3 linked regions of the Homo sapiens genome follow. The protein of the gene in region 1 purifies or fractionates together with the protein of each later gene. This does not show direct contact. Each region holds a gene or a part of one and is shown on either strand. Other genes may lie near its edges. The genes, in order: NCSTN, TOP2B and SFXN1.

Region 1 (3,262 bases):
TTTCCTATTCCTACAGCTCAGAATCCAGACCCCAACCCCTGCCCTGTTTCCACCAACCCCCAGGGCCTGTGAGACAGGGTAAGAGACAGGATTGGATTGGGTGTTGGCCAAAGGATGAACACCACAGCTGTTGTTGCTGCTGGGAAGAATCAGGAACTCAGTGACATTCCATTGGTTCCCTGGACTGGGTAGTTCTCTGATCATTTGTTGCCTAGCAGACTACCACTGCCCATTAAGGATAGGTGAGTGACTAGCTCCCTTCTTGCCTTGCTGCCCCATGGATCCAATTGTCAAGGCTGCTCTACCCAAGTCCTGGCTGTGTCACACTCGCTGCCCAACTTGTCCTCCACTTTCCTCATTGCTTGTTCAAAACCTTCCCTTCCCTCTAGGTCCACCTTTAGGCCTGCTTTTTTCCAGGTGGTCCTCTTTCTGCAATTCCAGCCTTCAGCATCATCCCTGCTCTGGACTCCTGTAGCATTTAAAGAATTGGTTATCTGTTTGGCATTCAGCACGCAGTTTTCTATTATTATTTGCTCCCTTCAATTCTGCACAATAAATAATAAGTGAAGCATCCACTGAGGATAAAGCAGAGTCTTGAAGACAGTAGAATTTACTTATAAATATGAAAAAAAAGGTCTCTTCTTTATGCCCCAATTTTCTAACTCTAAAAAGAATGGTGGAAGCTACAGGAAATTCAGAGAGCCTTGGTCCCAAAAGGCTTGAGGGATAAAGGTCTACTAGAGATAGGGTAGCTCCCCAAGCAGGGAACTTGAAGTATAGAGCATTTCAGGCCTAAAAGAGACCTCCTGCTTCCCATCCCCCAGCCTCCCATCAGTTAATCTCCCTCGTACCCCCCAGGTGGAGGATCTCCTGGCCACATTGGAGAAGAGTGGTGCTGGTGTCCCTGCTGTCATCCTCAGGAGGCCAAATCAGTCCCAGCCTCTCCCACCATCTTCCCTGCAGCGATTTCTTCGAGCTCGAAACATCTCTGGCGTTGTTCTGGCTGACCACTCTGGTGCCTTCCATAACAAGTAAGAATCACTTGGCCCTGCACCCTCTTCATTCTTGAAGAGAGTCTATTCTGCAGTCTGGGAGGAAGGTCACTGCCCTCCGCTTTCCCACACTACCCCCTCCAGAACTTCAGGTCCATCTGTATTCTTTGCTCAGTGGCGTTTTCACATCTGAACTGAAACCCTTATTTGTTTGACTGGATATTCATCTTAGAAACTCATCCTCACCCTTAGCCCTTTACTGTCAACAATCCTTGGTTATGGTTCCACTGCTCCCTAGCTCTCCAGGGTCCTGAGTTCCTCAGGGTTGCCAGCAGAGGGCATCATCTCAAACACAAGCATGGGAAGGATGGTGGGGGCCCTTTGGCTAGAAGACAGAAAGCAGTCCTTCTCTGGAACTCACCCAGAGGTGCCAGAAACAGTATTCATACTCTGTGAAATGTACCATGTTCTTGCCATGTGGTAGATGGCCATGGTTCAGTGCGAGGGTAAAAGTGCCTCCTATAGCTGATGGGGCTCCAGAGATACAAAGGGTAACTCTGGGTTACCCTTTAACTGCTCCTAACTTGAGGCCTTGGATAACAGGGGACTTCTTACTCAGGCTGGATTGCCAAGCTTCCCGAGGGCCAAATGAGTTTCGTAGTGAAAATGCTTGAGCTCTATTTCTGACCCCAGCCAAGTAGCACCTTCTCATTCATTTAGGGGAGTGACCGTCCTAGCACTTAGGGTCAGCTGTCTTCTCTAAAGCTATCCTTGTACCACTTTGGGGCAAGTGAAGATTCATCATTTGAACACATTTTGGATTTGATTATGTAGCTGACTTGACTTTGTGTGGGACAGGGATTTACTGATGGTAAAGACTGTGGAGCTCAGCCTCTCTTTTAAGATCTATCTCCTTGGGGCTCCATAAGGATCATCATGGTGATTTTATCAGTGTATTCTTATATATCAGTGAGCAGACCTGATCCTAAGACCTGCTAATCACCTCCTGCTCCCAGCTACCCTAAATATAAATGTTCATTGGAACAGTTATACAACTGATCTCATGATACATGGCAGAGTTCTCTGAAAATCATCTTAGCCATCCCCCATATCTCCAGCCCAAATGATGTAGAAGAGTCTCTCCTTTGTTTAAAGATCTGAGCTCATTCAGCTTTTCTACCTTGTCTGTCAGGAAAGTCTTTAATTTTCACTAACCACCTCACCCTCACTCCTACCTCCCTGTTCTCCACACCTTCTGCAATATGGGATCCTGATTGTCTCTCACCCCTTTCTTCTGATGCTGAAAATGAGATACTGAGTCCCTGCATAAGGAGCATTTGAGGGAGGAAAGGGGCAGAGCCCTGGCTAAATGTAGCCAAGGCTCATGCCGGCTTTCCTGGCAGATATTACCAGAGTATTTACGACACTGCTGAGAACATTAATGTGAGCTATCCCGAATGGCTGAGCCCTGAAGAGGACCTGAACTTTGTAACAGACACTGCCAAGGTAGCACTGAGCCAGGCTGGGTGGGAGCCTGGGGCACACAGTGAAGATGCTAGCATTTGAGGATAGGAGAGGTGGGCCATTCAGCCCCCTCCTCACCTACCACAGGCCCTGGCAGATGTGGCCACGGTGCTGGGACGTGCTCTGTATGAGCTTGCAGGAGGAACCAACTTCAGCGACACAGTTCAGGCTGATCCCCAAACGGTAAGCAGATGGGCCCTAGCTCCTTCTTTCTATTTACACAGCAAGCTGTCCCTATCCTCCCTTGCCCTAGTGTCCCAAACCTTGGAATTCCACATGACTGTTGATGCCGGTGAGAATGCCTCATGCCCCAGAGAGCTCTTGGGTGGGCCTCATCTGCATCTTATGAGCCAGCTACTGTCTCCCAACTCCAGTCTATCTGGCCAGTCTGGTTCCTGCCCCATGACTGGGTCTCCACTGATAATTCTTTCCCTGGGCTCCCTTCAAGTCACAGGGTTTTCTCTCTTTACTGTTCCAATCCTAGGTTACCCGCCTGCTCTATGGGTTCCTGATTAAAGCCAACAACTCATGGTTCCAGTCTATCCTCAGGCAGGACCTAAGGTCCTACTTGGGTAAGCATCTGGTGTGGGAATGGGACCCTTAGCTGAGGAAAGGGATAGAGAAAAAGTCTTTTGGTTTAACCTTTATTATTTTTTTTCTTTTTCCTCTCTGTTTTTCTTACCCCCTGTTTTCCTTTCTTTCTTCTCATATTTGATGGATCCTTTTCCATTGCCCTTCTTTCTGGC
Region 2 (3,729 bases), on another chromosome or scaffold:
TATTCCTTTCCTCCCAGTCCTGGTTCCCTATGATAAGTCTCTTTTGAATGCTCAAGCTAGTTAATTTTAATTTTTCCCCCAGATGATGCTGTGCTTGTATAAACTTCTTTAATTGAAAGACCTTAGTTTAAATGTGTTTTTGATTAAAATATTGTAAAATAACCTAATTTTCCAGAAATTAAGAATTAGTTATTGGCCACTTATACATTTTAATTTTGTAATAAAATTTATTTTATTTTTAATGTGCAAAATCGTTACCTGGAATCTTTCAGGCATTTAGTAAGAAGAAGATTGATGACAGAAAAGAATGGTTAACAAATTTTATGGAAGACCGGAGACAGCGTAGGCTACATGGCTTACCAGAGGTTAGTCTTAAAGAGTGGTGACCTGGGGAAAGAAGGAGAGAGAGACTAGAATTCATGCAGTAATAATGATAATATTGCTATATAACTTTTCTCTTAGCAATTTTTATATGGTACTGCAACAAAGCATTTGACTTATAATGATTTCATCAACAAGGAATTGATTCTCTTCTCAAACTCAGACAATGAAAGATCTATACCATCTCTTGTTGATGGTGAGTAATATTTAAAAACCTCATTTTTTAATGTTATTTACTATAGTTTAATTTCATGTACTTTAAGCCATCCTTATGATACATATTAAAATTCTTACTTTAAATCTTGTATATGAAGAGCTTATTCAGAGGAATTTAAGGCCTTTTTGATTTTGCTTTTGTTTTATGTTTTCATAGTGCTGAAATCTTTAATATTCCTTAATTTGAAACTTTTAAACCTTTTCCGAGTTTTTCAGGAAAATTAACTTTAAAAGTCTTAAAGCTTTTGCCCAAGTTGTCTGCAGATTTTCTAAAAAAGTAAAATGGAACTTTGATAATTTCTAAAATATTTATCAGAGATTAAATTTTAAAAAGCTTTTATTCTGTATTACCCAAAGCCTAATGCTTTAACTTAACTTGAAAAAAATTTAGGAACTATTTCTAATTTGAAAAAAATTTAGAAACTATTTCTCGTTAGTTGAAGCAGATTTTGATCTTCTATCTAGAACTTTTTTTTTTCTCATAACCTTTATGAAGTTTGTTGATCTTTGTATTGCTTGGCTTTTCTGGTAATAGCAGATGTTTCTACCTATCCCTCAAGTTCTAGCCACAAATCGCCTTTCTTCTATGAAGCCTTCCTAGCAATTCTACTCTAAATTGGTCTTAGATACCTAAACTTCTATACCAATTATTATGTACCTCTTATTTTACCTTTGTTCATTTTGCCTCTAGAATTAGATTACAAAATTCTTAAAGAAGTTGCCATATTTTATCATCCTCATGTTTTTACCATACTCTGGGTCCAGTATGATTACAGTGATAGCATATACTGAAAAGATTGTTACTGTGCTTATTGGCCTAGAGCCAGGGTGTCTAACCTTTTGGCTTCCCTGGGCCACATTGGAAGAGGAAGAATTGTCTTGGGCCACATGTAAAAATACACTAACACTAACGATAGCTGATGAGCTTAAAACAAAAACAAACAAAAAACAAAAATAATTGCAAAAAAACCAAAAAACAAAAATAATCGCAAAAACAAACAAACAAAAAACCTCATGATGTTTTAAGAAAACTGACAAATTTGTGTTGGGCCACATGCAGCCCACGGGCCACGGGTTGGACAAGCTTGGCCTAGAGCAAGAAGAATGGTAAGGGAGCAGAGTGATTTGCTCACATTGTTTCATGCAATCCTTATGAAAACTATATTAAGAAAGTAATTATTTCTATTACTTGGATGAGGACATAGACTTACTAGTTATTTGCTTAGTCACATGGTAAATGGCCAAGTTGAGAAGAATATACAGATTAGTGAGATTCTAAAGCCTTTATTCTTCACTACCACAATAAATCGCTTTTTATAAGGGTTTTCCTGATGTGGGATACTTAGAATAGATTTCAGGCTCCTTGATGGCATGCTGGCAATTTAGTTAGCTACAAATGGCGTTTTGGTTGTTTGAGTGTTTGGAAACTACTGTTAAAGGAGTTTGGTACCACTAGGTGATTCTTTAAGGCCAGAATGTTGTCTTTCAATTGGCAGTTCACTTTTGGAGTAGATGGAGATGGCATAAAAACATCTTAGTATATACCTGCAGATGGCTTTCTAGGAAAAAACAAACAAACAAAACAAACGTGTTAGTATGTACTCACTTTGTTACAGAATCTCAAGTAACAATTTTACTGGTGTTCTTGAAAAGCAAATTGTATCTTTGCTTTATTCCCCTGAATTGTTACAACTATATCTTGAAGTAACATTTTAAAAGAGCTCTTTTAAAAATAGGCTTTAAACCTGGCCAGCGGAAAGTTTTATTTACCTGTTTCAAGAGGAATGATAAACGTGAAGTAAAAGTTGCCCAGTTGGCTGGCTCTGTTGCTGAGATGTCGGCTTATCATCATGGAGAAGTAAGCATTAAGATTGGAATCAATTGAGAACTGTAATTATTGTCTTGAAGAATGATAATTACACATAGTATTTTTCCTTTAGTAAAGTCTTTGGAAATGTAAAAGAATTAAGAGAATATACAGATTAGTGAGATTCTAAAGCCTTTATTCTTCACTTGGATTTTAATTCAAGTTGGGGAGTAATTATAGAAAATTTAGAATATTAATGTTATGTTCTGCCTTCTTCTGTTGTATAGCAAGCATTGATGATGACTATTGTGAATTTGGCTCAGAACTTTGTGGGAAGTAACAACATTAACTTGCTTCAGCCTATTGGTCAGTTTGGAACTCGGCTTCATGGTGGCAAAGATGCTGCAAGCCCTCGTTATATTTTCACAATGTTAAGGTAAATATTTGCTGATATAATGGTATAAAGTTTGATTTGATTTGGAACCAACTAACTAAATGTTCGATGGAATTATAGCTGTGGAGAGATGTGATTATCTGGTTATTCTACTTAGAAGGTGAATGTTCCAAATTATTTGACCACAAATAGAATGAAGTCTGTTGACCTTAATTTTTATGAATTGTTGGTGAAATCAGTCCTAGTGAATTAAGGATGTTTTTCTCACCAACTTTACTCTTTAGGCTGAAGATGGGTTATGTACTTTATTTAGAGTAATAGGAAATTCTTTAAAAGTTATCAATATTAAATCAGGTAGGTAAGTACATAAGTAAAATAGGACTATTTTATTCTGGGCTTGTAACTGAGAGAAAGATGCATTTGAATAATACAGTTAGGCAAATTTTATTATTAAGCGGATGTAATCAAAATTATTAAAAATGCATTCTCTTCAAAAGATTTGTTTTTGCAGTGTGAAGTTTTTAATTATGTATAAAGTTTTCTTTCCCAAAGCCATGACATTTTTTCATTTGCTTCTTTTTGTTTTCATTAGCACTTTAGCAAGGCTACTTTTTCCTGCTGTGGATGACAACCTCCTTAAGTTCCTTTATGATGATAATCAACGTGTAGAGCCTGAGTGGTATATTCCTATAATTCCCATGGTTTTAATAAATGGTGCTGAGGGCATTGGTACTGGATGGGCTTGTAAACTACCCAACTATGATGCTAGGGAAATTGTGAACAATGTCAGACGAATGCTAGATGGCCTGGATCCTCATCCCATGGTAATTATTTGGAACTTATTATTTATTTAACAAATGATAATGTGTAAACTACAAATTCCCGTCATTTTAGAAAAGTAATGGAACATTTTTATTTTAGAACATATTGT
Region 3 (3,600 bases), on another chromosome or scaffold:
GTCTCACTCTATCACCTAGGTTGGAGTGCAGTGGCACAATCTCAGCCGACTGCAACCTCCACATCCCAGGCTCCAGCAATCCTGCTACCTCAGCCTCCTGAGTAGCTGGGACCATACGCCACCATGCCCAGGTAATTTTTTGTATTTCTGGTAGAGATGGGGTTTTACCATGTTGTCCAGGCTTAAACTTCTTAGCTCAGGTGATCCACCCACTCCGGCCTCCCAAAGTGCTAAGATTATAGGCATGAGCCACAGTGCCCAGCCAAGAAGGGGCGATCTTTTATATATCTTTTTGAGCCCAGCACTTGGCACAGGGTATGGTACAGAGAAAAAGCTAGTTAAACATTCATAGGAATTTGGAGGATGAGGAATAGCACTCAAAATATCTGTGACATATTGCTTAAGTTTTAGAAGTTTTGTTTTTCACGTTTGGATCATTAATCCACCTGGAGTTGAGTTTCATGTATTATACAAGTAGGGATTTGGCTATCCCAGTACTGTTTAATGAATATCTAACCTTTGTCCCCTGACCTGTGATGCCAACTCACAGCAGGTTTCTACATGTGCAGGTTTCTACATGGATGGCAACTCTATTTGGCTCCGCGAGGCTCTTTGTTGACCCCGGAGCAAACACACCACCTTTGTTATTTACCATTGTTTTATAACAAGTTTTGTATCTGCAGGACAAGTCACTCTGCCTTGCTCTTTTCTTAAAAGCTTGTTTGGCTGTTTCTGGCTCTTTATTTTTTTCATGTACATTTTGCAGTCCGCTTGTGCAGTTATAACACACACTCCACCAAGCACACTAGTGTTGTCGAATTTTTTTTTATTGTCATAGGTCATTTGGGAGAGAATTTACATCTTTAAAAATGGAATCTTCCTATGCAATTTATGATGTAATTCACCATTTATTAGATTTCATTTGCCCTTTAAATATGCCCAGGTTACCCACCTGGTCCAAAATACCATGATTCCTCTCCTGGATAACCACAGCATCTGGCTAAACAGCCTCTCTGCCTCCACATCCCCTCCCACGCAGTCTGTTCTCCATAAAGAAGACAGAGTGCGCCGTTGTTGTTGTTGTTGTTTAAGACATAAATCAGGTCGTGGCACTAAAGTCCTAAAATCGCCTTGTAGCGCCAGTCTTGCCAAGCTCCACACTTTAATTGGGTAAATGACTGCGTGAACGGATGCTGGCTACGCCAAGGCCCTGGGAATAAAGAAATGATAAAGAAGCAGTCCCTTAAGGGAAACCCAAATGGAACATAGTGGCCCCAGCCCGCGCAGAGCCCCACACCACCGTGAGGATGGGCTTGGAGTTCCTCTTGGACCCGGGGCGCGGTCGCTAAGCCAGAAGCGGAGTCGCGGGCGCGGGGCGGGGCCTGGACCCGGGCCTGGACCCGGAGGGCGGGTCCCTGGGCCTCGTAGCTCCCGGGCCCGGACGCGCGCTCACAGGCGCGCGCGAGGACGCGCTCCGGGGACGCGCGAGGACGCCGTGGCGGGAGAAGCGTTTCCGGTGGCGGCGGAGGCTGCACTGAGCGGGACCTGCGAGCAGCGCGGGCGGCAGCCCGGGGGAAGCGGTGAGTCGCGGGCGGCAGGCCCAGCCAGGTGGGTGGGGAAACGCGCAGGGGGCCCGGCGGAGGCGCGCAGGCTTGGGCAGGCTCGGGCCGTGCACCCGCGGGCCGGCTGCGGGGAGACCCCGGGCTCGGAGGTCGGAAGCCCCTTTGCGGGCCGGGGATGCCTCGGGCCGGGGGGGGGGTCCCTGCACCTGGGGATCCCTGGCATCCTGCGGCCGGACAACACCACGCTTCCAGCATCCCGAGGCCCAGCATCCCGTGGGCCTCGTCCCCGGTGGGAAGGGCCCTCCGCCGCGTCCCCGCGCGCCTGGCCGCGCTGTCTTCGGCGCCTGCGTGGCGAACTCGCTCCGGGGACACCAAGATGGCTGCCTCGGGGGCAGCGGCAGCCAGGTGGCCCAGTGCCTGGCCCAGCGCTCCGCGCTCTCGGCTTTGCCTCCTGGTGCTGGGGGTCGGAGGGGAGACCACCTGGTTCCTGCCCTAGAACTCGCAATCCAGTAGGGAGGTGATGTGCAAGGAAGTAGATTCTTGGAGTAGTAGTTGGTCCTACAGGGACCTTGCATTTTCACGCTTTTCTCCTGAACTTTCACGTCTGTCACAGGTCTCTAACCTGCCCAGAATGACAATAAACAGTCTACTAAGTGCGTGCCAGGTGACTTAGGTCCATATACTTTTACACTCTTCCGGCCCTGCGAGGTACTGGGTGTTGGCTCTATAATCCACATGAGAAAACTGGGGCTCTGAGAGGTTGAGTGCCCAAGGTCACACAGCTGGCCATCCATAGTCCAAGGCCATCTGAGTCTCAGTCGTAAATACTGCGTTCTCAAAGACGCTTTTCCTTGGCTATGCTGTCTAAAATTGCACCCCCCATCCCCCCACACACCCTTTGTAACACAAACTCTGGGTTTTTTCTCTTTAGTGTCTTTTGTCACTAGTTGAAATTAAAGGTGTTTACATGTTTTCTTCTCCTCATGTGAACAGGGCCTATTTTGTGTTGCTCAGCCTATCTATCCCCTGCGCATAACAATTGCCTGCACCAAGAAGGCCCTCAATGAGTATTTGTTGACTGCCTGAACGAAAAAGCCTAGCTCTGCTTCACTCCAGAGCCTGGGCACTTAGCTGCTCCGTAGGCAACTCTTTTCTGCGCCCCCATAGCTTTTTCCCTGCACATTTCTCACAGTCCTAGTCCCTCTTCTGCGTTGACTTCTAGATTTTGACTTGGGTGCCTTTGGATTCTCCCTTCTTTGTCCATCCCCCTTTTACTGATCTGCTTCAGTGTTCTAGGCATTGTTATAGGTGCCCAGGGAGGATGCAGGTAAATGAGGAGGCTTTGCAGCTCCTACAGCTTCAGACTTGATATAAAAGATGAGAGGGAACTGTTTGGGAGGATGAATGGGGTGGCTACCAAGAAGTTCTGGGACCTCAAGCAGATCCTTTCTCTCCTCAGCACTGAGCAGGTGTCTCACTTTCAAAAATACAGTGTTTGGGCCAGGCGCGGTGGCTCACGCCTGTAATCCCAGCACTTTGGGTGGCCGAGGCGGGCGGATCACGAGGTCAGGAGATCAAGACCATCCTGGCTAAGCCGGTGAAACCCCGTCTCTACTAAAAATACAAAAAATTAGCTGGGCGTGGTTGCGGGCGCCTGTAGTCCCAGCTACTCGGGAGGCTGAGGCAGGAGAATGGCCTGAACCCGGGAGGCGGAGCTTGCAGTGAGCCGAGATCGCGCCACTGCACTCCAGCCTGGGCGACAGAGCAAGACTCCGTCTTAAAAAAAAAAAAATACAGTGTTTGGCAGGGAGGAGCTATCAGCTCCCATCTCAGCTTAGTACGTATTCAGAGGTTAGATTGAGGCTTTCAGGCCACATGGATGTTCAGAAAAGGGATGATATCTGTGGTTACAGTTGTCAGAGAGGACCCTATATGGCAAAGGGTGTCATAATTCAGGATCAGTGAAGTGTTTAGCTGTTCTTAATTTTCTGTAAAAGTTCTATGAAACCCCATGGGGATGGATACAGAAAGGCACCAA

What was found.
Region 2: the proteins of NCSTN (region 1) and TOP2B fractionate together in Homo sapiens (co-fractionation; one large-scale study listed by BioGRID). This does not show direct contact.
Region 3: the proteins of NCSTN (region 1) and SFXN1 purify together in Homo sapiens (affinity purification with mass spectrometry; one large-scale study listed by BioGRID and IntAct). This does not show direct contact.

The regions. Positions count from the first base shown.
Region 1 is NC_000001.11:160,353,260-160,356,521, forward strand, and holds part of NCSTN (nicastrin isoform 1 precursor), read left to right. Parts: intron 1-63; coding exon of another isoform or gene 64-72; exon of another isoform or gene 73-835; intron 836-858; coding exon 859-1,031; intron 1,032-2,395; coding exon 2,396-2,498; intron 2,499-2,603; coding exon 2,604-2,699; intron 2,700-3,000; coding exon 3,001-3,088; intron 3,089-3,262. UniProt on the Homo sapiens protein: Essential subunit of the gamma-secretase complex, an endoprotease complex that catalyzes the intramembrane cleavage of integral membrane proteins such as Notch receptors and APP (amyloid-beta precursor protein).
Region 2 is NC_000003.12:25,623,408-25,627,136, reverse strand, and holds part of TOP2B (DNA topoisomerase 2-beta), read left to right. Parts: intron 1-272; coding exon 273-365; intron 366-462; coding exon 463-577; intron 578-2,333; coding exon 2,334-2,455; intron 2,456-2,691; coding exon 2,692-2,840; intron 2,841-3,390; coding exon 3,391-3,622; intron 3,623-3,729. UniProt on the Homo sapiens protein: Key decatenating enzyme that alters DNA topology by binding to two double-stranded DNA molecules, generating a double-stranded break in one of the strands, passing the intact strand through the broken strand, and religating the broken strand.
Region 3 is NC_000005.10:175,477,060-175,480,659, forward strand, and holds the start of SFXN1 (sideroflexin-1), read left to right. Parts: upstream 1-1,500; 5' UTR 1,501-1,580; exon of another isoform or gene 1,581-1,608; intron 1,609-3,600. UniProt on the Homo sapiens protein: Amino acid transporter importing serine, an essential substrate of the mitochondrial branch of the one-carbon pathway, into mitochondria.